Regions from separate parts of the Homo sapiens genome. Here regions 2, 3, 4 and 5 are each linked to region 1. The links come from fine-mapping of genetic effects on gene expression. A gene starts in region 1. Each other region holds a variant in brackets. All regions are shown on one strand. Distances are between the middles of the regions.

Region 1 (5,000 bases):
TGTTGGACAGGATGGTCTCGAACTCCTGACCTCAGGTGATCTACCTGCCTTGGCCTCCCAAAGCGCTGGGATTACAGGCATGAGCCACTGCCCCCGGCCTCAGTTGCAGAGTTCTATGTGTGTGGTTCTACATTGGCTCAACAAGTGACATTATGCAACCCACTGTAGGCTGCTCAATTGTTTCTCAATGATCTTGTAACCAACTCTCAAGATATCTGATATCCGAAATGTATAAAGCACTCACTTTCTATTGGAGACTGTTAAAGTTAAACCAAGAGTCAAGAGCTAAGTCCTAGAGTATGCTTAAAACTTTAGACAGTGATTGTTCTGCATCCACATTCTTAAAGCTTTCAGGCATCACAACACACATTTTTGAAAAGTTTTGCTTCTCCTAAAATCTAATTCATTGTTTTCTCATCCCTCAAAAAACCAAAACCCCTCAAAACGAACAATAAAACCCCACAGCTTTTTCTTCCCAGAATCTTCAAAACAATAGGCAGTCACAAATAAGATTTCAGCGGAGCGGCCCAGTCCCTTTTTCTCTCCGCTTTAGCTCCCCCTGGCGTCCCCTTCCCCTTCTGTCCTGGTCTGAAATCCTCATCATTTAGAAACCTTCCTTAGGATTAGAGGACCAACAACATCCCCTCAGGGGGTTGCTCAAACACACGTTCCCTCCCAGCCCTTTCTCACTGGTACGCCAGTTGGGATTTTAGCAGATTTCCTAGCTGGTCCCAGGGGCCGACACAGACAGCATCCTTCTGTGTGGTTACGAAGGAGCCTAGGGCTTTGCGAGCGGCGTGGGGTTCAGAGCCAGGAAGGGCTGACCTAGTGGGAGAAGGGTTACAACCACCCGTACTCATCCGGCCCGCCTGGGGAAGAGGCATTTGGTCCCTTTTAGGTGCTGGCGCTTGTCCGAGCTGGTAAAAACCATCTCACTCCCTGAGGCTTGGATCGAGGAAGTGACTCTCCAAGGCCTTGGGGCAGGTCAGGCTGTGCGGGTCCTCCTGTGCGTGTCCCTGGCCAGGGCTCCTGCCGTTGTCCCACACTGCCTTTCAGGTGTCCCCGGTGTCTCACTATTCCTGTTTGCACTACACGTCCTCCGAATTCCTAAACCAGCCAGCCCAAAGATGCTGGAGGCCTCACCATTGAAGCCGATCACGGCGTCAAGTTCCAGCTCCGCCACTTGGGCCTCCGGCGAAATTTTGTTATCCATCCTTGGGAGGTTCTGATTACTTTGCTCTCCTCCCTAGTGGCTGCAGCGTCTTCTGGTCGTTATGGTAACGGACGAGCGCATGCGCTCCAGCTCCACGCCCGCGCAGAAACCCAGCCTGCCGAGTTCGAGTTCATTAGCATTCTTGGAAATGAAGGGGTATGGGGACTGGAAGAGAGATGGGGTGGGACTCCTCTTCTTTTTTTTTGTGCTATTTCTCTGGAAATTTAGGGGATGGCACTAACTGCGCAGAACTAATTCCTCCATCCCCTTGTGTAGAGTCTGTGACTTCTTAGTAACTCTAAAATCAAGCACCGAATGAATGGCATTTAAAAAATATGTAATCAGGCGTACAGGACTGATAGGAAGGCTGCTATAAAAAATATATATAATTGATACTTCTTTGGGCCCCTGTTTGGAGCAGTGTGAAAAAAATTTTAAAGATTTTTTAAAAAGCGTTGAGGTATAATTTACATATCATAAAGTTAACTTAAAGTAGGTTGTAGTGAGTTTACGCAGCGTGCAAGTCTCACCGCAATCTAGTGTTTTGTTTATTGTTTTGTTTTTGAAGCAGGATAAATTTTTAAGTAACTGCTACAGAGAGGTCTTGCAGCGCTCCCACCTTCCTGGGAAAATGCTTTGTTTCTATTTAACAATTTTAACTGAGCTTAGCAGTTCGCGTCTCTTGGTGGGAGTAGATTGCTCCAGTGTACTGTCCGCAGGGGAGCGCTTTGCTTTCTCTGATTATAGTTCTGAGGCCCTAGCTACTCACTTTGCAAACTCCAGGCTCCGGTCGCGCACGGGACGAACTGCGGGGAGTGAGCCGCGCGGGCCGCCGTAGTCAGCTGCTAAGAGCAGGAAGAGTCCGAGCGGCGGGCGGAGTCTGCAGGATGGCACCGGACCCCTGGTGAGTCCCGGGTGAGGGCGGCGGTGCGTGGAGGGACCTTCGGGGAGGCCGGGCTTCCGGAGAGCAGGCAATCACTTCGCATTGCCGCTGGTGGCCTTTCGGGATGAGGGGAGGGGCAGCGAGACCTTTCCTTTACTGAGGGGGCTCAGCCACATCCCGCCACACTTGGTCCTTGCAAGGGTGGCCCGGGAAGGAGACCAGGTGGTCCGCTGGAGAGCTGAGGACTTACGCCAAATCTCTGAATATTCCTTTAGCTTTTCTGGGCTGCATCTCGTTGCGGGGATTTCCCGCCCATCCTGGTTTTGGAGCTAGCTGGCTGGTGCAGGCTTCCCTGGACTCCTATAAAAGTGAAGTCGAAATAACGTTTTTGTAGCATGTCAGTCCATCCCGGTAAACCCCCTTATTTCACAGGTGGAGAAACCGAGGTTCAGAATCCATGGCCACCAGCCAGTTAGTAACCAGCTGGGGCTAAGACCTAGATCTTGGGGGCCCTTCCAGATACAGGAACCTGGGAGGGAAATTGTGCACTTGTTTATAAGGCATTTTGCACTTTCTTGAGTTAATATCATGAAGTCTTTTCCTTTAGCAGTAGCTTCTGCAGTAAAACAATAGCTGATAAGGGTGATTTATTTAGCAGTTAATCCCAAGGACTGCATGATGAAAGATGCAACTTTTGATCCCAAGGAACATATTGTTTGATCCCAAGGAACGTATTGTTATTGAACATAGACTTGACCTTTCTGCTTAATAATTAAAAACATATTACAGCTCTATAACGTTCTTGTTGGAATATGTGTCTTATGTTGTTATTTCTAATATAGTTTATAATTGTTTAAGTTGCCCACATCCTGGATATTAGAAGAATGGATTCCAAGAACAAAGTTGAGTTACCTGGAATCTAGGTTATTTGGGCCAATTATTTAATTTAGCATTTACTTTTTTAAACCTAATTTTAGGCCGGACGCGGTGGTGGCTCACGCCTGTAATCCCAGTACTTTGGGAGGCCGAGGCAGGCAGATCACCTGAGGTCGGGAGGTCGAGACCAGCCTGACCAACATGGAGAAACCCCGTCTCTACTAAAAATACAAAATTAGCCGGGCATGGTAGTACATGCCTGTAATCCCAGCTACTCGGGAGACTGAGGCAGGAGAATCGCTTGAACCCGGGAGGTGTAGGTTGTGGTGAGCTGAGATCGTGCCATTGCACTCCAGCCTGGGCAACACGAGCGAAACTCCGTCTCAAAAAAAAATAAAAAACCCCAAAATCCCTAATTTTAACAGTTATATACACCCCTTGATAGAGAATATTCAATTTAGAGAATATTGAAAATTTGCAAAAAGGAAAATAAATAGCATCTTTAACTCTATAATTTGGAAATAGCCATTAATGATTTTTTTACAATGAATTTGTTATTTTAATCTATATTTTTATATATATATATAATATAAACAGCATTTCTCTATGTCATTGGACATTCTTTGAAAGCATAACTTTCTTTTCTTCTTTTTTTTTTTTTTGAGACGGAGTCTTGCTCTGTCTGTCACCCAGGCTGGAGTGCAATGGCGCGATCATGGCTCACTGCAACCTCCACCTCCTGGGCTTAAGCAACTCTCCTGCCTCAGCCTCTGGAGTAGCTGGGACTACAGGCGCACGCAGCCACGCCCAGCTAATTTTTTGTATTTTAGTAGAGACAGGGTTTTACCGTGTTGCCTAGGCTGATCTTGAACTCCTGAGCTCAGGCAATCTGCCCGCCTTGGCCTCCCAAAGTGCTGGGATTACAGGTGTGAGCCACCGCACCTGGCCTCATAATTGTCTTATGTTGCAAAATAATGCATCACATGAATGACCATAATTTATTTTTCTCCTATTAGTTTTTTGTTTTTCTGATGTTTTGTTTTGTTTTATCATTGCAAAGGGAGTCCCTTTGTTCTATCTCTTATTTCCTTGGGCTCCCTGTCTAGAAGTAGGAATTAGAACTGTTGAAAGTGAAGCATTTATACTTTTTTTGTTATTCTCAATCAGTTTGACTAAGTGGCTTTCTCATTAGACTGTTGAAAGTGAAATAGAACTGTTGGGCTCAAGGGTATAAACATTTTTAAGGCCCTTGATACTGTGAACCCCAAAGTATCTGAGACAGGTCTCAGTCAATTTAGAAAGTTTATTTTGCCAAGGTTAAGAATGCACCCATGACACAGCCTCAGGAGGTTCTGAAGACCTGTGCCCAAGGTGGTTGGGGAACAGCTTGCTTTTATACAATTTAGGGAGAATAATACATGAATTAATACATGTAAGATTTATGATGGCTCAATCCAGAAGGGAGGGACACCTCGAAGGGCGTGGGGGGCTTCCAGGTCATAAGTAGATTGAAAAATTTTCTGATTGGCAATTGGTTGAGTTATTATCAATAGAAACGAATGTCTGGGTTATGATAAGGGGTAGTGGAGACCAAGATTTTATTATGCAAATGAAGCCTCTGGGTAGCAGGCTTTAGAGAGAATACATTGTAAGTGTTTCTTATCAGACTTAAGGTCTGTATTGACGTTAATGCTGGTTGGCTTTTCCTGAATTCCAAAAAGGAGGAGAGGATATATAATGAGGCATGTCTGATCCCCTCTTCCCATCATGGCCTGAACCAGTGTTTCAGGTTAACTTTGGAATGCCCTTGCCTTAGAGTAGGGGTCCGTTCAGATGGTTGCGGGGGTGGGGGGGGGTGTTGGGGGTGGGCTTAGAATTTTATTTTGGTTTACAATACATATTCCTAAGTTGCCCTCCACCTTCTGGAACCTAAATCCCTCAGTTTACAAATCAAGTAGGAAATAAAGGTCAAAGATAAGGGACAGGCCCCCAGTTATCTATTTAGATTGGTGGAAGCTATCACTGGAC
Region 2 (5,000 bases), 740 kb after region 1:
GTATCCCAGCCCCTAGAACAACACCTGGTGCAGTGAGCTATTCTAAGTGCTGGAGATGCAGCTATGAATGAAACAGACAAAATTCCCTGTGAATTCCTGGAATTCACAATCTAGTGGGGGCTAGAACATTGATCCAAGTGCTGGGTGACGCTTTCAGGAAGTGGGCGTCAGTGGCTATCTCTGCCTCTCTGGGTAACAGACATTGCAGACCAGTAGTCTCCCCATAATAGCGTGTGAGGGGCAGAGGGGAACCCCCACTTGCAGGGCAGGCATAGGGCCCTGGATGTGGGATCCAGAAGCCTTCGGGGGAAGCTCCTGCCGGGCCCCCAGGGGCAGCGGAGAGGTGTCACCTTGGGCTGCCAGGGCCCTGCGGACTTGGCTTAGGAGCTGGGGTGCGTGGGCGCTGGGCCAAGACCCAGGCTCTGACGCCCCTCCCCAACAGGCCAGCCCTCGCCGCACCCTGGAGCACTATTTCCACGCCGTGGTGGCCGCCTTGGAGCAGATGGCCAGCGAGGCCAGCCCGAGCCGGGAGGGACACGTAGAGAGGCTGGAGGAGATTTACTGCTCGCTGCTGGGTCCCGCGGCGGGGCGCTGCGGTGGTAAGCGACTGGCAGATGGGGGGCCTTGGCAAGAGTCCCGCGGGGGCAGCTCACTGCACAGCAGGGGGCGCCAGAGAGCAGCGCTGGACCTGCCTCTGTCTGGGTGCCTGGCCGACTCCCAGGAGCCTGGGGACTGGGGGCAGCCTGGGGGTTTGGCAGGACCGGGACTAAGAGGCGGGTAATTAGGCTGGGAGCGGTGGCTCACGCCTGTTAACCCAGCATTTTGGGAGGCCGAGGCAGGCGGATCACCTGAGGTCAGGGTTTCGAGACCAGCCTAGGCAACATGGGGAAACCCTCTACTAAAGTAGTAGAGGGTTTAGTCTCAAAAAAAAAAAAAAATCAGCTGGGCGTGGTGGTGGGCACCTGCAGTCCCAGCTACTCGGGATGCTGAGTTAGGAGAATCACTTGAACCAGGGAGGCGGAGGTTGCAGTGAGCCGAGATCACACTACTGTACTCCAGCCTGGGCGACAGAGCGAGACTCCGTCTCAAAAAAAAAAAAAAAAAAAAAAAAAGAAGGTGGGTAATTTGGTCATGATAACCGCCGATGCCCACAGAGCCCCTACTATACTCCAGTTGCTGTTCTAATCACCTTACATATATTTAAATATATTGCGTATACTGTATTAAATCAATGAAACCTCACAGTCAACTTATAAGCAGAAACTATTATTATCCCCATTTTACAGAGGACGAAACTGAGTTAGAAAGAGGTTAAATATCTTGCCCAAGATCACCCAAGGCAGTAAATGGCAAAGCCAAGATACAAATCCAGGCTGTCTAGTTCACTACTCAGCTGCAGTAATCCAAGGATTTGATCGTCCAAGGACCAGAGCATCTAAAAGAGCAGATGAGTCAACATCGTTTATATCTGGTATCATAGATTTTTATTCCTCACCCTTCCTATTTGCATATTTATAAGATAACGCCTTATCTTATGCAAGGCATAATGTAGGTAAGATAATGCCTACCCTGACACAAGCCCCATGTGGATGGGGGCATCTGAAATAGCCCAGAGAAACGTCCCGAATATGTGTTTCCTGGCTGTTGTAGGATGGTTCTGATTTGGGTCCTATTTCGTGGTCATTCAAAGTATCATGGAATATGTCAGCCTGCATGTCCCAGATATGCACAGTCACTGATCGTGCACCTGTCATTATAAGGCATGGGGTTAAGGACTGGAATCCACCGGAAGAGGTTAGTGTGCCAGGCCCTGGGTTTGAACTTGGCAGCCCAGGTTGGGTGGAGGCCACAGCAGTTGGGTGAGGTGGGCAGGATAGTCCCTGCCTAAAGACTCCATCTTCGAAGTTGTCCGCTCTTTTACTTTAACATTCTACACTGCCTCTGATCCCACATGGAAAAAGCTCCTCCTGTACCCCAAGCTGGGACTAACCCTGGGGCCAATCTGGCTTTGCTCCCCTTGTGGCCCCTTGCTAACACTCACCAGTGACTCTGCATGGATTAATTAAGACCATCTGGGCCACCCCCAAGACACATCCAAGGGCACCTGTCTCCTGCCCAGACTTGCCCTGTGCCTTTTTTTTTTTTTTTTTTTTTTTTTTAGACAGGGTCTTGCTCTGTCACCCAGGCTGGAGTGCAGTGGCTCGATCATGGCTCACTGCAGCCTTGACCTCCTGGGCTTAAGCGATCCTCCCACCTCAGCCTTTCGACTAGCTGGGACCACAGGCACGTGCCACCACACCTGGCTAAGCCCTGTGCATCTTTTTTTTTTTTTTTTTTTTTTTGAGACACAATCTTGCTCAGTCACCCAGGCTGGAGTGCAGTGGCTCAATCTCCGCTCACTGCAAGCTCTGCCTCCTGGGTTCACGCCATTCTCCTGCCTCAGCCTCCCGAGTAGCTGGGACTACAGGCGCCTGCCACCATGCCCAGCTAATTTTTTTGTGTTTTTTTAGTAGAGACGGGGTTTCACCGTGTTAGCCAGGATGGTTGC[G/A]ATCTCCTGACCTCGTGATCCACCCTCCTCGGCGTCCCAAAGTGCTGGGATTACAGGCATGAGCCACCGTGCCCGGCCAAGCCCTGTGCATCTTAATGACCAGGCAGCACCCCCGTCAAGCCCCTGTGGCTGTAGGGGGCAGTATGGAGTGGTGATTATAAGCACAGTGTTGTGGGTAAGAGCAGGAACTCTGGAGCTGAGCTGCCTGGGCTCAAGTCGTCACTGTACTATTTACTATGTGACCTTGGGCCAGTTATTCAACCTCTCTGTGTCCTGGCTTCTCCCCTGTAAATTGAGGATAATAATGTCACCTGTTGCCCAGGGCCATTGGCAGGATCCAGAGAAATGATTACAGTGTGTGCCAGGTGAGTAGAATAAGGCCTGGCAGGCAGTAGGTGCTCAGTGAACACTAGCTGCTCTCCCCTAAGAAGCTTGCAGCCTCATGAGTGGGGAGCCACAGCAATATAGAAGTGAAACGGGAATACGGAGCCAAATCCTAAGACCACATGTGAGGTGTGCCCAGTGTGCAGACAGTCTGCTCGGAGGGAATGACCACCGCGGGCCACTGGAGTGGTCAGAAAAGATTCTAGAAAGAGAAGCAGGAAGAAGGGCTGTCCTTTGTCTCTCCCCTGGACTGCCCGGGGTTCCTGCTGCCCCCAAACTTTGTTGATGAGTTCTCGTCAGCATCGCCGACAGCTGCAAATGTTAACTGAGTGTCTACTGCATGCAAGATATTGGAAGCAGCCCTGAGAAGGGCAGGGGTCTTTCCTGCCTCGTCTGGATGCAGGCAGGGCATTTTAAGAACAGTGGGAAAGCCAGTCTGGCAGCTGCACAGGGCTGAAGGCATGGCCAGCATAGGAGCATAGGTTGGAAAAGGCCTTGTGAGCTGGTTTGTGAAGACCCCCTAAGGGTTGAGCTAGGTTTGAGAAAACGTAGCTACTAAGCATTGTTGGACAGGGAGGGGACAGCTGCACTGTTGGGCCCTGGATGGGCTGGTGGTGGCAGAGATGGAAAGGCAGACCAGATGTGAAGGAGAGAGTCCCTGCCACCTCTCTAAGACCCCGCACAGGAGCTGGGCAGGATGGGGAGGGCAGAGGAGGGTCCCATGGCCTCCTCCATGGCCTCCACAGCCTGCTCCTTTCTGCAGGTGACCTTGTCCAAGAGCGGCCACCAAGCATTCCCCTGCCCAGCCCCTACATCACCTTCCACTTGTGGACCGGTGAGGAGCAGCTCTGTACGTGCCCATGGAGCTGTCTGGAAACAGTGGTATATGTCTGTGTCTGTGTGTGTATGCGTGCATGAGTGTGTGTCAGTGTGCATGCGTGTGTCAGTGTGTGTATGCATGAGTGTGTGTCAGTGTGTCTGTGTGTGTATGTGTGCATGAGTGTGTGTCTGTGTGCATGCGTGTGTCAGTGTGTGTGTATGCATGAGTGTGTGTCAGTGTGTGTGTATGCGTGCATGAGTGTGTGTCAGTGTATGTGTGTGGATGCGTGTCAGTGTGTGTATCCATGAGTGTGTCAGTGTGTCTGTGTGTATGTGTGCATGCGTGTGTGTCAGTGTGTGTATCCATGCATGTGTGTGTGTCAGTGTGTCTGTGTGTGCTTGCATGGGTGTATGCGTGCATGCGTGTGTCAGTGTGTGTGTATGCATGATGCGTGTGTGTGTCAGTGTGTCTGTGTGTGTATGCGTGCATGCATGTGTTTCAGTGTGTCTCTGTGTGTGTGTCTGTGTGTGTGCACGTGTGTGTATGTCTGTCTGTGTCTGTACATGTGTATGTGTGTGCATCTGTGTGTCTCTGTGTGTGAGTCTCTGTGCATGTTCATATGTGTGTCTTTATGTGTCTGTCTGTGTTTCTGTGTGTGTGTATCCTCTGAAGAGGACTGGCTGAAATCAGAAACGTAGCCCTGCCAGCCTCACGTGTCCTCACCGCCCTTGTTCCCCCACCCCAGGGAAGGAACTGGTGCTCTTCCTCCGCCCAAGATCCCAGCTGCGCCTCAGTGCTGACTTGGAGGTCTTGGATCTGCAGGGCCTCCGGCCGGACCGGGAGTTGGCCCGGGTTTCTGTGCTGTCCACTGACAGCGGCATTGAGCGGGACCTTCCCACGGGGGCTGATGAGCTGCCTGCACCCGGCAGCCCTGAGATGGAGCGAGCCGGGCTGCAGCGCAAAGGGGGCATCAAGAAGCGTGCATGGCCCCTGGACTTCTTGATGCCTGGCAGCTGGGACGGGCCCCCAGGGCTGCACCGGAGGACAGGCCGGCCCAGTGGGGATGGGGAAATGCTGCCCGGCGTGTCCCGGCTGCACACAGCCCGGGTACTTGTGCTCGGAGATGACAGGATGCTGGGGCGCCTGGCCCAGGCCTACCACAGACTCAGGTGGGGCCCCGACGTGGGGGCTGGGGGTGGGCGCTGGTCAGGGGCACAGGTGGGCCTGGCGTGGGCTGGTGAAGGATCA
Region 3 (5,000 bases), 140 kb after region 1:
TCTCTTCTGTAGCTGCACTGACTACAGCAATCCATCTCACCACTCCTTACCTTCTTCTGTGCTGTTCTCCTTGCTTATGATGCTCAAGAAGAGCATCTTTCTTACCTAAAAGACACACACAACCGTAGTTCAAATATCATCTTCCCCATTAAACTCTTCCTCACTTTCCTAGGAAGAGTTGGCCCATTTCTCTGGGTCCTCACAATACTCTGTGGAGCAGCTAGAGTTTTCACTCTTTTGGATTCCCACCCTCCCTTCCCCCGTTTTAATATCTGTGACCCCCTGAAGTACTCTGTGTATTCCTTAAGAGAAGGGGCCACATTTTTTCCCATTCTTTTTTCCCCCACATACAAAAAATGGTAATATTTAATGCCTACAACATGATGAGTTTGGAGATAGGTGTACATCCATGAAACCATCATCACAATCTATGGAGGAGGAACTTCTTATCTCCAGTAGGGCCAATAGGTAGTTTTTGACTGAATGAAAGAATGAATGGATGCTTTTCATGAGTGATATTGTGGGCCGAAGAGATTGAGAAAAGCTTATAGTGATGAAGGATCTTTGATTTCATCCCAAACCACTAATTGAGCATCTGTGCAATGCAAGTGCTCACGACAAAGCTATGAAGTGGAAATTACTATTTCCGTTTTGCTGATTTTGAAACTAAAGACTTGGGTTATTTGGTTAAGACCGTCTAGCTCATCATAAGTGAAGGAGACGTGATTTGAACCCACACTGGCCTGGGGTCCAGGCGTATGCCTTGTCTTCCACATCAAAACGCTAGTGTCAAAGAATAAATCTTAGGAGTGCATTATGACGATGGTGATTTTGAGATTATAAAGCATTTGGGAGCTCACAAAGGAAGCCTGTGGTTTTGTAGAGGACTAGAACTATTTTCACAACTGGTTTCCCTGACTGCATCCATATCTGTGTGGCCTTAATATTGTTTGACTCACAAAGGAAACTTGTTGATCCAGAGTGAACCAGTTCAACTTTCTTCTCCTCAATCTCAAGAGTATTCCATGGAGGAAAATGTTCTAAACTGCACCTGAGCTATAAACAATTTACTCTGAAGGTAACAGTGTTAGTATTCCAGTACGTAAACCTTTAGCTAATAACAATCAAAGTAGCCTAATTTGGAAAGTACACAGAAGGTTAGAGGGAAAGCTTGTAAATGTTTTCAAAGACTCTGTATTTAATTCTATCACCAGCTAGCAAAATAAATAGGCCAGCTGCTAGCTCTGAAACAGACACGTGGTGGAAATGAAATGTTAATAGTTGAAATGCCTTGCTCATTCGAAACCAAAAGGAACATGAAGTACACTTTCTAGTTTATGAGAGACAAGGTGAAAGTTCCCAAAACACATTTGTGGTGACTGCATTTAAAATTGCTTCCTCATCTTTTATTTTAGTGGCTAATACTTTAGTGTGGCCTATGTGTGACTAGAGGGCATTTTTTTTTTCTTCCGATTTAGATGGAAGGTTTGGAAATAAATGGAGAGTGGAAATCGGGAGATGTTAAATTCTACTTTTCCATGTGTCTAAGTTGTTTGCTCTAGTTTGTAAGCTGCAGGCCAGACTTTTCTGAGGAATGGGAGGTTACTTTCAATAATGTGCTAAGATTGACCTGAGATATTTAGCCAGCACATCTGCTTGCAAGCTCTGGCCGTATGTGAGGAGCTTATACTGGAATTAATTAACTCTGTTTGGTATTCTGAAATGTTTGCTCCACATCTTGTTTTACCATCACAAAACTTACAAAATCAATTGGAACTTTTTTATTTTTACTTAAGAACTTAAAAAAAAAAGCCAGGTGAAAAAGAGAATCTGAAAAGCAGTTGTTTTCCTGCTTGAAGCAAACTTTCAAGAACGAGCATTAGAATCAGAATTTATTTTTTCAAATACTTCTTTTTAACTTAAAATGATGGTGAAGTGTAACTCTTTCATCCATTACATTAATGCCATTTTTGAAATGTTTGATTTTATTAGAAAACAAGGAGATTGAAGTGAGAGGGGTATCCTGTATGCTGAGATAGTCACAGCATTACAAAATGTTTTATGAACCAAAATGTTGTCCTAGGAACACTCTGACTTCAGAAAGGAAAAGGAAGGGAGGTTTCTGGGAAAGCTCTGCAAGCATAGCCTTGACCTGTATTTGGAGACAGTACAGCACTCGTGGTCTTAACACCATGATGTTAATGTCAGAACGTTTGGCACTATGTTGTTGCTAACCTGCTGTTCTTAAACAAGTGAGCCTTACCTTGTTACTTTTCTCAGTTAGTAAAATTGGGAAGAGGACTACCTTCTAGAATTCAGCCACAGCACCAGTGTCATGACTGTGTTCTCTCTTCCTTTAAACCTGCTGCCCTTGGCCAGCCGCGGTGGCTCACGCCTGTAATCCCAGCACTTTCAGAGGCCGAGGCAGGTGGATCACAAGGTCAAGAGATCGAGACCATCCTGGCCAACATGGTGAAACCCCATCTCTACTAAAAAACAAAAAAACAAAAAAAACAAAACAACAACAACAACAACAACAAAAACCCTGCTACCCAATGAGATGCTCAGCAACTCATAATTTATTAAAAAATGAGCCAAAGGCCAGGCGCAGTGGCTCACACCTGTAATCCCAGCACTTTGGGAGGCCGAGGCAGGTGGATCACGAGGTCAGGAGATCGAGACCATCCTGGCCAACATGGTGATACCCCATCTCTACTAAAAAAAAAAACAGAAAAATAAAACAACAACAACAAAAATGCTACTACCCAATGAGATGCTCAGCAACTCATGGTTTATTAAAAAACAAGCCAAAGGCTGGGCGCAGTGGCTTACACCTGTAATCCCAGCACTTTGGGAGACCAAGGCAGGTGGATCA[C/T]GAGGTCAGGAGATGGAGACCATCCTGGCCAACATGGTGAAACCCCATCTCTACTAAAAAAAAACCAAAACAACAACAACAAAAAAACCCCTGCTACCCAATGAGATGCTCAGCAACTCATGATTTATTAAAAAACAAGCCAAAGGCCGGGGGCAGTGGCTCACGCCTGTAATCCCAGCACTTTGGGAGGCCGAGGCGGGTGGATCACGAGGTCAGGAGATTGAGACCATCCTGGCTAACATGGTGAAATCCCGTCTCTACTAAAAATACAAAAAATTAGCCAGGCATGGTGGCGGTCGCCTGTAGTCCCAGCTACTTGGGAGGTTGAGGCAGGAGAATCACTTGAGCCTGGGAGGCAGAGGTTGCAGTGAGCCAAGATCACGCCACTGCACTCCATCCTGGGCAACAGAGCGAGACTCTGTCTCAAAAAAAAAAAAAAAAAAGCCAAAACCACTGAGCCCAACTGTCCGTCAACAGATGAATGTGTAAACAAGTTGTAGTATGTACTTAAAATGGTCTATTATTCAGCCATAAAAAGAATGAAGTTTTGATATATGCGATTACATATATGAACCTGGAAGACATTCAGTGAAATAAGCCAGATACAAAAAGACAAATATTGTATGATTTCACTTATATGGAATATCTAGGATAGGCAAATTCACAGAGAAAGAAAGTAGATTAGAGGTTACCGAGGCTAGGGGCAGGGGGAAATGGGGAATTATTACATAATGGTTAGAGTTGCTGTTTGAGATAATTTTAAAGTTTTGGAAATAGATAAGTGGTGGTGGTTATACCACACTGTTAGTGTAATTAATGCCACAGAATTATATACTTTAAAATGGCAAATTGTTTTATATATAATATATATTTTATTTATATATAAATTATATATAATTTATATTTTATTTATATATAAATTATATATATTTTATATTTTATATATAAATTATATATATTTTATATTTATATTTATTTATATATAAAATATATATATTATATAGAATATATATATTATATAGAATATATATATTATATAGAATATATATATTCTATAGAATATATTATATATAATATATAATATATAATATATATATTATATATAATATATTCTATATAATATATAATATATATATTATATATAATATATTCTATATAATATATATTATATATATTATATATAATATATAATATATTATATATAATATATTCTATATAATATATAATATATATAATATATATTATATATTATATATAATATATATAATATATAATATATAAAATATATATGTTATATATAATATATAAAATATATATGTTATATATAATATATAAAATATAATATATATAATATATAATATAATATAAAATATATAATATATATTTTTTTGAGATGGAGTCTTGCACTGTCGCCCAGGCTGGAGTGCAGTGACGCGATCTCAGCTCACTGCAAGCTCCGCCTCCTGGGTTCACGCCATTCTCCTGCCTCAGCCTCCCGAGTAGCTGGGACTACAGGTGCCCGCCACCACGCCCGGCTAATTTTTTGTACCTTTAGTAGAGATGGGGTTTCACCGTGTTAGCCAGGATGGTCTTGATCTCCTGACCTCATGATCCGCCTGCCTAGGCCTCCCAAAGTGCTGGGATTACAGGTGTGTGAGCCACCGTGCCTGGCCTATTTACATATATTTATATATTTATAATATATAAATATATGTTATATATAAATATTTATTATATATTATATATAAATATATGTATATAAAATATATAATAAAAATATATAAATAATGTATTTATATATTTTATATATAATATATAAAACAAAATGTGCCATTTTGCCATTTTAGATATATATATCTCAAAACAATTTTAAAAAATTAATAGTATAACATTCCAAAAACTATGTAATTATACAGTTTAAATGGGTAAATTTGTGGCAGGTGAATTATGTCTCAATAAAACTGTTTTAAAAACCCCACTGAGTATATAGTAAGGGATTGGGATGTTCTGGTTAACTGAATCTTCTGGGTAATTAAGGATTAATATGTTTGCACTGAAACTGACCAAGTCAAAGGTACCCTTTCATGAAATATGGGGCTATGAACTTGAAAAACATGTTTTGTGC
Region 4 (5,000 bases), 140 kb after region 1:
CCCAAAGTGCTGGGATTACAGGTGTGAGCCACCGTGCCCAGCCGTATTTGACTAAATTTCTAAAGGTCCTGTCTCATTTTAATCTTTTTGCATTATGTTGTATTCATCTTAGCATTTGCCCCTTCATACTCAGGATTAGTAATTATTTGAGTACATCTTCACGCCTCTCATTTGGCCTGAGTTTGAAATGTTAACTCCAGTTTGGAGGTGATGAAGGAAGCATGTGAGAAAGGATGAGGCACAGGAGTGGAGTCAACCCCTGGGAGCTGGAGATGGAGAGGAGGCCAGCCATGGTGAAGCGAAGGAGGAGTGGGTGATAGCTTTGGGGAAACTGAAATGCTTGTAGGATATGGAGCCGGCATTTCAAGTGTTGGGAAATTACTGAAGACTGTTCAAAATGACAGTAACTGTGGTTTAAAAAAAAATCAGGCTGGATGCGGTGGCTCACGCCTGTAATCCCAGCACTTTGGGAGGCCGAGGCGGGTGGATCACCTTAGGTCAGGAGTTTGAGACCAGCCTGGCCAACATGGCAAAACCCTGTCTCTACTAAAAATACAAAAATTAGCTGAGCGTGGTGGTCCACGCCTGCAATCCCAGCTACTCAGGAGGCTGAGGTGGGAGAATCGCTTGAACCCAGGAGGCGGAGGTTGCAGTGAGCCGAGATCGCACCACTGCACTCCACCCTGGGTGACAGAGCGAGACTCCGTCTCAAAAAAAAAAAAAAAAATCATTGATTCACTATGATTGTATTGGGCAATAATGTGAAACATCATGGACGTCATTGACCAATGGAGATAACTGCAGTAAATTGGGGGTGAAGTGTTAACTAAGATGGTGACAATGAGAATGAAAAGCAGGGGACACATTTGAGAGGGATTATAAAGGAGGAATCGGCAGGTTTGGGGGATGGATCTGAAGGGAAATCCAAGTGGAAGGGATGAATCAGAGAGGATTCCCAGCCTTTGAGCACATATAACTAGGTAGGTAATGGTACTAATAACAAATCTCCAAATTTTAGAGTTAGGAAATATGTTTCAAATCATCCGATTCCATGTTTCTTAAATAGGCTGTAAGGGAGTATCCAGATTGGAAACCATTATAGAAATAATTGTCAACTCTTCTTTATGACTTCCTTCCTTTTGCCCTTTTCCCAGTGGTATTTTCCATGGTTCTGGAAATGACCTACTTTATGCCACCACTATATTTAGGCTGCAAATTTCCCCTGTCCATCCTGACCAAGGTTTGAACAATCCCATGTGGAGAGGAACTTAATTGCAGAATACCCTTTGCCATGCGTCTTTTTATTTTCCCTATATGCCGGGGGTACTTTTGGGGTGAGAATTGAAAAGGAAAAAATGGTAATGTGTGGGAATGTGTTCCAGCTCCAGACTTCCTCCTCACCCCACCAGGAAGCAGTATTGATGGTGCTTTCCTGATTAAAAAATTGCAAAATTTGGCCAGGTGCAGTGGCTCACTCACGCCTGTAATCCCAGCACTTTGAGAGGCCGAGGCAGGCAGATCACAAGGTCAGCAGATTGAGACCATCCTGGCCAACATGGTGAAACCCCATCTCTACTAAAAAGACAAAAATTAGCTGGGCATGGTGGCACGCACCTGTAGTCCCAGCTGCTCGGGAGGCTGAGGCAGGAGAATCACTTGAACCTGGGAGGCAGAGGTTGCAGTGAGCCAAGATCACACCACCGCAAAAAAAAAAAAAAAATTATATGGCAGTAAGTACAGTAGTGATCATAACAATTAGTTATTATAGTGTGGAGAAGATATGACTATTGAAGATATAAGTAAATTTTGCAAACTGATATCAATTTTTTAATTGTTTACAAATGTCCAGCCACATTGTATGCTGCTACATTAAAATAAGTGTTTTGTTAGGCATTGGTCTTCACCAAAACAAATGCTATGTTCAAATCATGAGAAATAATGGTCTTGCTCTGCTCAGTACTGTTAAAAATTCATCTGTTTTGTTTGATTCAGTTATGCATGCTGCATTAATGAACTGGAATACCTTATCTAGAATTGGGACCAGGCCCAGGTGAAACCAGCAAATGATATCATGTGAAGTGCCAGAGTATAGAGCTAGGATCAGCAAGCTATGGTTTATCCCGTTTTTGTACAGGTCATGAGCCAAGAATGGCATTTATATTTTTAAATGGTTGAAAAAAAATCAAAAGCTATTTTGTGACACATGAAAATTATATGAAATCCAAACCTTAGTGTCCATAAAACTTTTTGTAAAAGCAAAACAAACAAAAACCAGCCATGTTTGTTT[G/T]ACTATGGTTTTTTTTGTTGTTGTTTTTTGTTTTTTTGAGATGGAGTCTCGCTCTGTCACCTAGGCTGGAGTGCAGTGGCGTGATCTCAGCTCACTGCAAGCTCCGCCTCCCGGGTTCATGCTGTTCTCCTGCCTCAGCCTCCTGAGTAGCTGGGACTACAGGCGCCACCACCACCGCCCGGCTAATTTTTTGTATTTTTAATAGAGACGGGGGTTTCACCGTGTTAGCCAGGATGGTCTCGATCTCCTGACCTTGTGATCCACCTGCCTCGGCCTCCCAAAGTGCTGGGATTACAGACGTGAGCCACCACGCCCGGCTGTTTGACTGTGTGTTATGTATGGTTGCTTTTGCACCGCAACAGCAGTTTTGAGTAGTTGCAACAGAGACGTATGGCCTACAAAACCTAAAATATTTACCACCTGGCCCATTGCAGAAAATGTTTACCAACCACTGGTCTAAAGCCGTGTTTCCCAAACCTTAGTGTGCCAATGAATTACCTGGGGATCTTGTTAAAAGACAGATACTGGTTCAGGAGGGCCAAGGTGGGACCTGAGAGTCAGCACTTCTGACCAGCTCTCAGACGATGCCAGAGTTGCTGGTCCTTGGCGCACACTTGCATTTATACGATATTTAAGAGGTGGGTGGGGGAGGGGGGTAGTGTGTTGTAGAGGAGAGATGATCAAATGTTTTACAGTAGAAATGGCCTTTTTTTTTTTTTTTTTTTGAGATGGAGTCTCACTCTCACCCAGGCTGGAGTACAGTGGCACAATCTCGGCTCACTGCAACCTCCGCCTCCCGGGTTCAAGCAATTCTTCTGCCTCAGCCTTCTGAGTAGCTGGGACAACAGGTGTGTGCCACCATGCCTGGCTAATTTTTTGTATTTTTAGAGTTGGGGTTTCACCATGTTGGCCAGGCTGGTCTCAAACTCCTGACCTCGTGATCTGCCCACCTCGGCCTCCCAAAGTACTGGGATTACAGGCATGAGCCCACCGCACCCAGCGAGAAATGGGCTTTTTATACCTTATTTCAAAGGCCAGAATAAGTACCAGTTGATTCCAGCTCTGCTTTTTACCTTAGGAAGAACTTTCTAATGATTGAAATTCATCATGGAATCACTGCAATGGCCGCAAACAGAGGCGTCTAAGAGACTGGGAAAGTGGCCGGCCTGGTGAGATCTCCAGCTTAATTTCTTTGACTGACAAAGAAAAGGCAAAGTGAGAGTATGAATTAGCAAGCCAGACACTGAATTGCTTATAGATATAAGGCCTAGCCTAGCAGGGACAGTATTAATTGAACTAATCTCTTAAATGGCACAACTGCTGGTTTACGTTTGTACCAGGAATAAGTAACTATTGAGGCCTAACATGAAATCAACTCATAAAGAGTAAATGTGTAGCTGTAGGTTTATAATTTAATTTGTACTGACTGAAAAAGCTACAGTTGTCAGACGTCTGCAATTTCATTTTTTCACTCATGAGCCAGTTAAAAGATAATCCCTGCCATTGTTACTCTTCGCTTGTGTCCATTTCATGCACATCCCCTCCCTGAAAGCTGTTGTATCAGCCTTATGAATGGATGTATATTTGTAGGTGGATCTTCCAGCTGCAAGTCATTGTAGCCCTGACGAGTGAATCCTCTTGTTAATGGCTCCTTTAAGCAGTACTTTTGGTGGGGAAAGAAAAGAGAGAAAGAAACTAGCCATTTTGAGCAAGCCAATCAATGTTGGAGACCAGAGCGCATTTAGACAGATGATCGAGTAATGGAATATTTAAGCAACGCGATATTTGCTATTGATGAATACTTTTAAAACCATAAACCTCATTAAATTAATAGTACAACTGTCTGCTCAAAATTCAGTGAGTGCTTATAGTCGTGGTTTCATTGTATTTCTCCACTTTGAACGCTTTTCATTTCAGCTTGTCACAGGCTTTTAAAGGCATGATTTATGCTTCATAATACCCTAAGGAGGTTAAGTATTTTCATATTTATTGCACAGAAGAGTATTTTGTGATTGCTTGCCTGTCCTAAAATCAGCTTGGCTGGAAAAGGACCTAAGAATTCTGACCTCAGCTCTGTATCCAAACCAGGAGTCAGCGTTTGAAAAATGTGAGTCAATATCTTGCCCAGAGAGTTTGTTTCATTCCACTAACCTGGGGCAAGAACAGATGGTGGGAGGCAGCAGACAAACAATGCTGCTTTTTATTTTGTAAATCTGCCTAGATCCCTACATCCCAGAGCTGGGCCACATTGATACAGGCCAAACATCTTTCAGCTCTTTCAGATGTTTTCAGCCAGCTCTTTCAGATGTTTTCAGCCAGCTCTTCATCATCCACCATGTTATGTTGATCGTGGTCGTAATTGTTATCCTGAATGATTAAAACCCAAGTAGGTCAAAGTGTCTGTGATCTGTCCGAAGCGTGTTGGCCATCTTACCCTCACCAGTATTTTTGTGTATTGATATTTTTCAAAATCAGAATCATTTTAGATGCCCAGAGACCCTAGTGTACTTTCCCCATTCTACGTGCCCACTTCTGACTTGCCTTTCATGGAGTCTTTGGGTTTATTATGGTTATCTCTCTTTTGGCAAGTCAAAGGTAGGGTACTTTTTTTTTTTTTTTGCGATGGAGGCTTGCTCTGTTGCGCCCAAGCTGGAGCGCAGTGGCACGATCTCAACTCACTGCAAGCTCCGCCTCCCGGGTTCATGCCATTCTC
Region 5 (5,000 bases), 180 kb after region 1:
GGCAGAGGTTGCAGTGAGCCAAGATGGTGTCACTGCACTCCAGCCTGGGCAATAGAGTGAGACTTAGTCTCAAAAAAAAAAATGAATTTAAATAAATAAATAAATAATATGAGCTTTTGGTAATACACTAGTCCAGACTTGGCTGTTTTCCCATTCCCACACTTTGACATGTATACATTCCTGCAATTCAGACACTTTGCTCTCTCTCCCCATCCCTCCCACATCCAAAGCCGCGCTTAGCATGGTTGACACTGACTGCCCAGTAGCCCATCCAGTAGACATGGCAAATTCCACACTCCCTTCCTTGCGGCGCTGCCCTCTGTGACAACAGTGTGGGTTTTTTCTTTGTTTTGTTTTTGTTTTTGTTTTTGCCACTTGCTTTGCTTCTATTGTTTTTCCTCCTCTTGTTCTTTACATACTGTGTTCTCTTAGATTCTACCTTTACCTGTATCTCTCTTGTATATTTTTAAATTTTAATTCTTAAATTAACACAAAACAAAATTGACTGTGTTTGTTGTTCTGTGAATTTTTACACATGTGTAGGTTTGTTTAGCCACTACACAAATGGGACCCAGAACCATTCCATTGCTCCAGAAACTTCCTTGTGTTTCTTTTGTAAACCGACCATACTCTCACCCATTCCTAACTCCTGACAACCACTGACTGACCTGTCCTCTGTCACTAAACTTTTGTCTTTGGGATAATGTCATATAAATTGTATCATATATATGAACTTCTTAGTACCGCTTTTTTATTTTTCTATTTTGTTATTTACTGTAGCTTTTTGTATAGATTGTTTTAGTGGTAACTAGGGATGACAATATACATACTTAAAAATTTACAGTCTACTTAGAATCAGTATCTAATCTTTTCACATGGAGTGTATCAACCTTACACCCTATAGGCCCATTTGCCTACCCTGCTCTATGGTATATAATTGTCTTATGTATTATACTTACGTGCATTGAAGATCAGACAGTATGAGTTTGGTTTTCATCCACCAAACAGAGAAGTCAGCTGGAGAATATTTATCCAAATGTTTACCATTTCTGCTGTTCATCCTTCGTTTCAGGTTTCCTACTGGTATCGTTTTTCTTCTGTCTGAAGAACTTCCTTTAGCTGTTCTCTTAGAGTAGATCTGTTGACAACATATTTTCTTAGTACTTCTTCGTCTAGAGTATCTTTATTTCACCTCGGTGCTGAAGGATAGTTTTGCTGGTTATAGAATTTTGTGTTGATAGCTCTTTTCTTTCAGCACTTTAAAACTGGTGCTATACTTCCTTCTGGCCTCTGATTTTTGATGAGAAATCCAGTCTTTGAAATTTTTGTTCCCCTATAAAGCAATGTGTTGTTTTTCTTTGGTTGTGTTCAATTATTTTTTTCTTTGTCTTTAGTGTTCAGCAATTTGGATATGATGTGTTGTGGCCTGGACTTCTTTGTGTTTATCTTGTTTGGGGTTTGCTGAGCTTCTCAAATATGTAGGTGTATGTTCTTTGCCAAATTTAGAAAACTTTCAACCATTATTTGTTCACGTATTTTTTCTGGCCCACACTCTTTTTTCTCTCTTCTGAGACTCCAGTGGCATGAATGTTTGACTTTTTCCCATTATCCCATAGGTCCTTGAGGCTCTATTCATTTTTATTGGAACTATCTTCCAGTTCACCACCTCTTTCCTGTATCATGTCCATTCTGCTATTGATCCCATCCAGTGAGTTTTCAAATTTGGTTATTGTGTTTTTCAGTTTCAAAAGTTGCATTTGGTTCTTCTCTATATTTTTTGTTTCTTTGCTGAGACTATATTTCAAGAGTGTTCACCATTACTTCTTGGAGCATTTTTATTTTTATTTACTTTGTATTTTTGAAACAGGGTCTCACTCTGTCATCCAGGCTGAAGTGTAGTGGTGCAGTCACAGCTCACTGCAGCCTCAACCTCCTGGGCTCAAGTGATTCTCCTTTCTTAGCCTGCTGAGAAGCTGAAACTACAGATGCATGCCACTATGCCCAGCTAATTTTTTATTTTTTGTAGAGACAGGTTCTCACTATGTTGTCCAGACTGATCTTGAACTCCTGGGCTCAAACAATCATCACGATTCAGCTCCCAAAAATGCCTGGCCCAGCATTTTTATTATAGCTGCTTTAAAGTCTTTGTCAGATAACTCCAACAACTATGCTTCTTAGCAATGGCATCTTGTTGTCTTTTCCCAGGTTTCTTATGCAACTTGAAATTTTCCGGATGTTCATATGCTGCAAAATTTTGCGTTGTATCCTGGACATTTTGATTATTATTTTATGAGACTCTGGCTGTTGGTTTAAATCCTACAGAGATGTTGATATTTTTTATTTTAGCAGGCAATTGCCCTGGTTGAGTTGAGGCCACAGGTTCCAACTACCATTGAAGAAGTTTTCAAAGTCTTTCCAGTACTGTTTGGGTCTGTCCCACAGGTGCAGTAGCCAGTGACCAGACTGGGAGTTGG[G/A]TGGTTTTCTCTCCTGTAGTTCAGCTCTCAATGTCTACGTATACTATTTGGGGTCAGCTCCGTGTATGCACTTCTCAAAGGAGAATCCAGGACTTCATGAACAACTTTAAGGGGTTGCTTTTCTAAGCTCCTCCCAGTCTGTGATCTTCCTGGTGCATTTTGGCTCCTGAGGCTCCCTTTTTATTTCTCCAGTGTGAAATCTAGGACTTTAGTTACCCTACTCTGCCATATGCTTCCCATCTATATAGCAATATGGTTTCCTTTTTTTTTTTCTCTCTCTCTTTTTCTGTAACCCAATCTAAGTCTGTGGCTTTTTTTTTTCCCTCATCTTTTTATTTTAAAGGTTTTTCTAAAGCTACAGAAAAGTTAACAGTATATTCTTCAGGCATATCTGGTCACCCTTCATTTACTAGATTCACCAGTTGTTAACGTTTAGCCACATTTGTTTTGCTTTTTTGTTGCTGCATGAGTGTGTGTGTGTATTTATGTACCTTTTCCCCCCAGAGCGAATTATTATTATTTAATATTTTTAAATTCTTTTGAGATGGAGTCTTGCTGTGATGTCCAGGCTGGAGTGCAATGGCATGATCTCCGCTCACTGCAACCTCCACTTCCCAGGTTCAAGCAATTCTCCTGCCTCAGCCTCCCAAGTAACTGGGACTACAGGCATGCACCACCATGTCTGGCTAATTTTTGTGTTTTTAGTAGACAGGGTTTCACCATGTTGGCCGGGCTGGTCTCGAACTCCTGACCTCAAGTGATCCACCAGCCTCTACCACCCAAAGTGCTGAGATTACAAGTTGTGAACCACCGAGCCCAGCCTGTGAATGGTTTGAAGTAAGGTGAGGGTGTCTCGTAATGCTTCTATATACTTTGGCATCTGTTCCTAATCTATCTCCTAATATTCTTCTGTGTAGGTTGTTTTCCTATATAACTGCAGTGTCATTAGCATATCCAAGAAACTTAACTTTGATATGGTAATAATGACTAATATGGAGTTTCTATTTAAATTGCTGCCATTGCCCCAATAAAGTTTTGTCACTTTTTTTTGAGGGGGTGCTCCAGCAATCAGATTACAGATTGCGTTTAACTGTTTTGCCTCTTTAATGTCTTTTAATTTAAAATATCTCCCCCTTCTTTTTTTTTTTTTTTTTTTGAGACGGAGTCTCGCTCTGTCGCCCAGGCTGGAGTGCAATGGCGCGATCTCGGCTCACTGCAACCTCCACCTCCCGGGTTCAAGTGATTCTCCTGCCTCAGCCTCCCGAGTAGCTGGGACTACAGGTGCCCACCACCATGCCTGGCTAATTTTTTTTTTTTTTTTGTATTTTTAGTAGAGACAGGGTTTCACTACGTTGGCCAGGCTGGTCTCAAACTCCTGACCTCGTGATCCACCTGCCACAGCCTCCCAAAGTGCTGGGATTACAGGCATGAGCCACCGCACCGACCCTGTGTTACACTTTTTTTTTTTTTGAGACGGAGTTTCGCTCTTGCTGTCCAGGCCGTAGTGCAATGGCGCGATCTCAGCTCACTGCAACCTCTGCCTCCCAGGTTCAAGTGATTCTTCTGTCTCAGCCTCCTGAGTAGCTGGGATTACAGACAACCACCACCACGCCCAGGTAATTTTTGTATATTTAGTAGAGACGGGGTTTCATCAGATTGGTCAGGCTGGTCTTCAACTCCTGATCTCAGGTGATCCGCCCACCTCAGCCTCCCAAAGTGCTGGGATTACAGGCCTGAGCCACTGCGTCCAGACTCCTGTTACACATTTTTAAGCCTAGATGAGAGACCATGGTTTATGGTCAAGAGGAAGTCGGAAAGGAGCCTGTGTTTTTTGCCTAACCTGGCCCATCTGGCTGTGTATAAGGTGTGAGCGAGTGTGGCCAAGGGGAATTTCTGCCAGGCAAAGGAGCTTTCCCTGTGTCCCCAAAGCCTGGGTGGTTCCCAGAGGCTCCACTTTGATCTGCGGGAGTTCCTTGCAGCTCCCTGCCATAGGATGCCATAGGCAAAGCATTACCTTTCCTTTAAGAAGTCACAGATTGGTTTTTCCTTGTGTCCCTGTTCTCTGGAATGTATCTTTTCCTAGTGTACGGTATTATCAGAGGTCACCACCACCCCCCATTTTTGGTTTCCATTGATAAATTTGAGTATGATATCAATTATAGGGAACGGAGGGAATTAAACTAATACCCTCAAGAAAAACTCTATCTTCACTATAGATTTTTTTTAACATTTGTCTTCAAATATTATTAAGAACATAAGCAAAAAGCATAATAACATAATGACTTTACTACTGCCATTATGAGTCCGTTATGAGTATAAAAAGGCACCAAATGTATCTGAAAATATATAGCAAACTCTCTCCCTATATATAGAATGTATTGAGGCTGTAATTGAGAGTAGAAAAATGATGAAGTATTATTGGAGTCGGGTATTTTGACATCATATAATATTTCTTAATCCTTGTGATGCTGTCATTTTGTGGTATACTTTACGTTGTTCCATTTTGTCCATTCTGTGCTGGAATGT

What was found. PIP is the estimated chance that this variant, and not a neighbour inherited with it, causes the effect. A credible set is the group of variants that fine-mapping cannot tell apart.
Region 2: its variant is the best candidate, but not a certain one, in a credible set for the expression of STX8 in visceral fat (GTEx, PIP 0.90).
Region 3: its variant is the best candidate, but not a certain one, in a credible set for the expression of STX8 in sun-exposed skin (GTEx, PIP 0.88).
Region 4: its variant is the best candidate, but not a certain one, in a credible set for the expression of STX8 in whole blood (INTERVAL, PIP 0.71).
Region 5: its variant is the best candidate, but not a certain one, in a credible set for the expression of STX8 in whole blood (INTERVAL, PIP 0.56).

Annotation. Positions count from the first base shown.
Region 1 is chr17:9,572,909-9,577,908 of GRCh38, reverse strand. STX8 (syntaxin 8) reads left to right here and starts at 2,089. Exons shown (of 8, transcript NM_004853.3): 1 at 2,089-2,117. The coding sequence starts at 2,101. It overlaps CFAP52 (cilia and flagella associated protein 52), which reads right to left and starts at 1,267. Exons shown (of 14, transcript NM_145054.5): 1 at 1,144-1,267. The coding sequence starts at 1,213. RefSeq lists enhancers at 1,005-1,134, 1,927-2,106.
Region 2 is chr17:8,828,488-8,833,487 of GRCh38, reverse strand. It overlaps PIK3R6 (phosphoinositide-3-kinase regulatory subunit 6), which reads left to right. Exons shown (of 20, transcript NM_001010855.4): 9 at 443-599; 10 at 3,696-3,782; 11 at 4,498-4,921. Among named protein-coding and RNA genes, the nearest start is that of MFSD6L, 32 kb to the right of the region's middle. RefSeq lists enhancers at 188-267, 4,302-5,000. The variant G/A (reference allele first, on the strand shown) is at 2,549.
Region 3 is chr17:9,428,968-9,433,967 of GRCh38, reverse strand. All of the region lies in intron 6 of STX8 (syntaxin 8), which reads left to right. Among named protein-coding and RNA genes, the nearest start is that of STX8, 140 kb to the left of the region's middle. The variant C/T (reference allele first, on the strand shown) is at 2,876.
Region 4 is chr17:9,436,253-9,441,252 of GRCh38, reverse strand. All of the region lies in intron 6 of STX8 (syntaxin 8), which reads left to right. Among named protein-coding and RNA genes, the nearest start is that of STX8, 140 kb to the left of the region's middle. The variant G/T (reference allele first, on the strand shown) is at 2,288.
Region 5 is chr17:9,389,467-9,394,466 of GRCh38, reverse strand. All of the region lies in intron 6 of STX8 (syntaxin 8), which reads left to right. Among named protein-coding and RNA genes, the nearest start is that of STX8, 180 kb to the left of the region's middle. The variant G/A (reference allele first, on the strand shown) is at 2,475.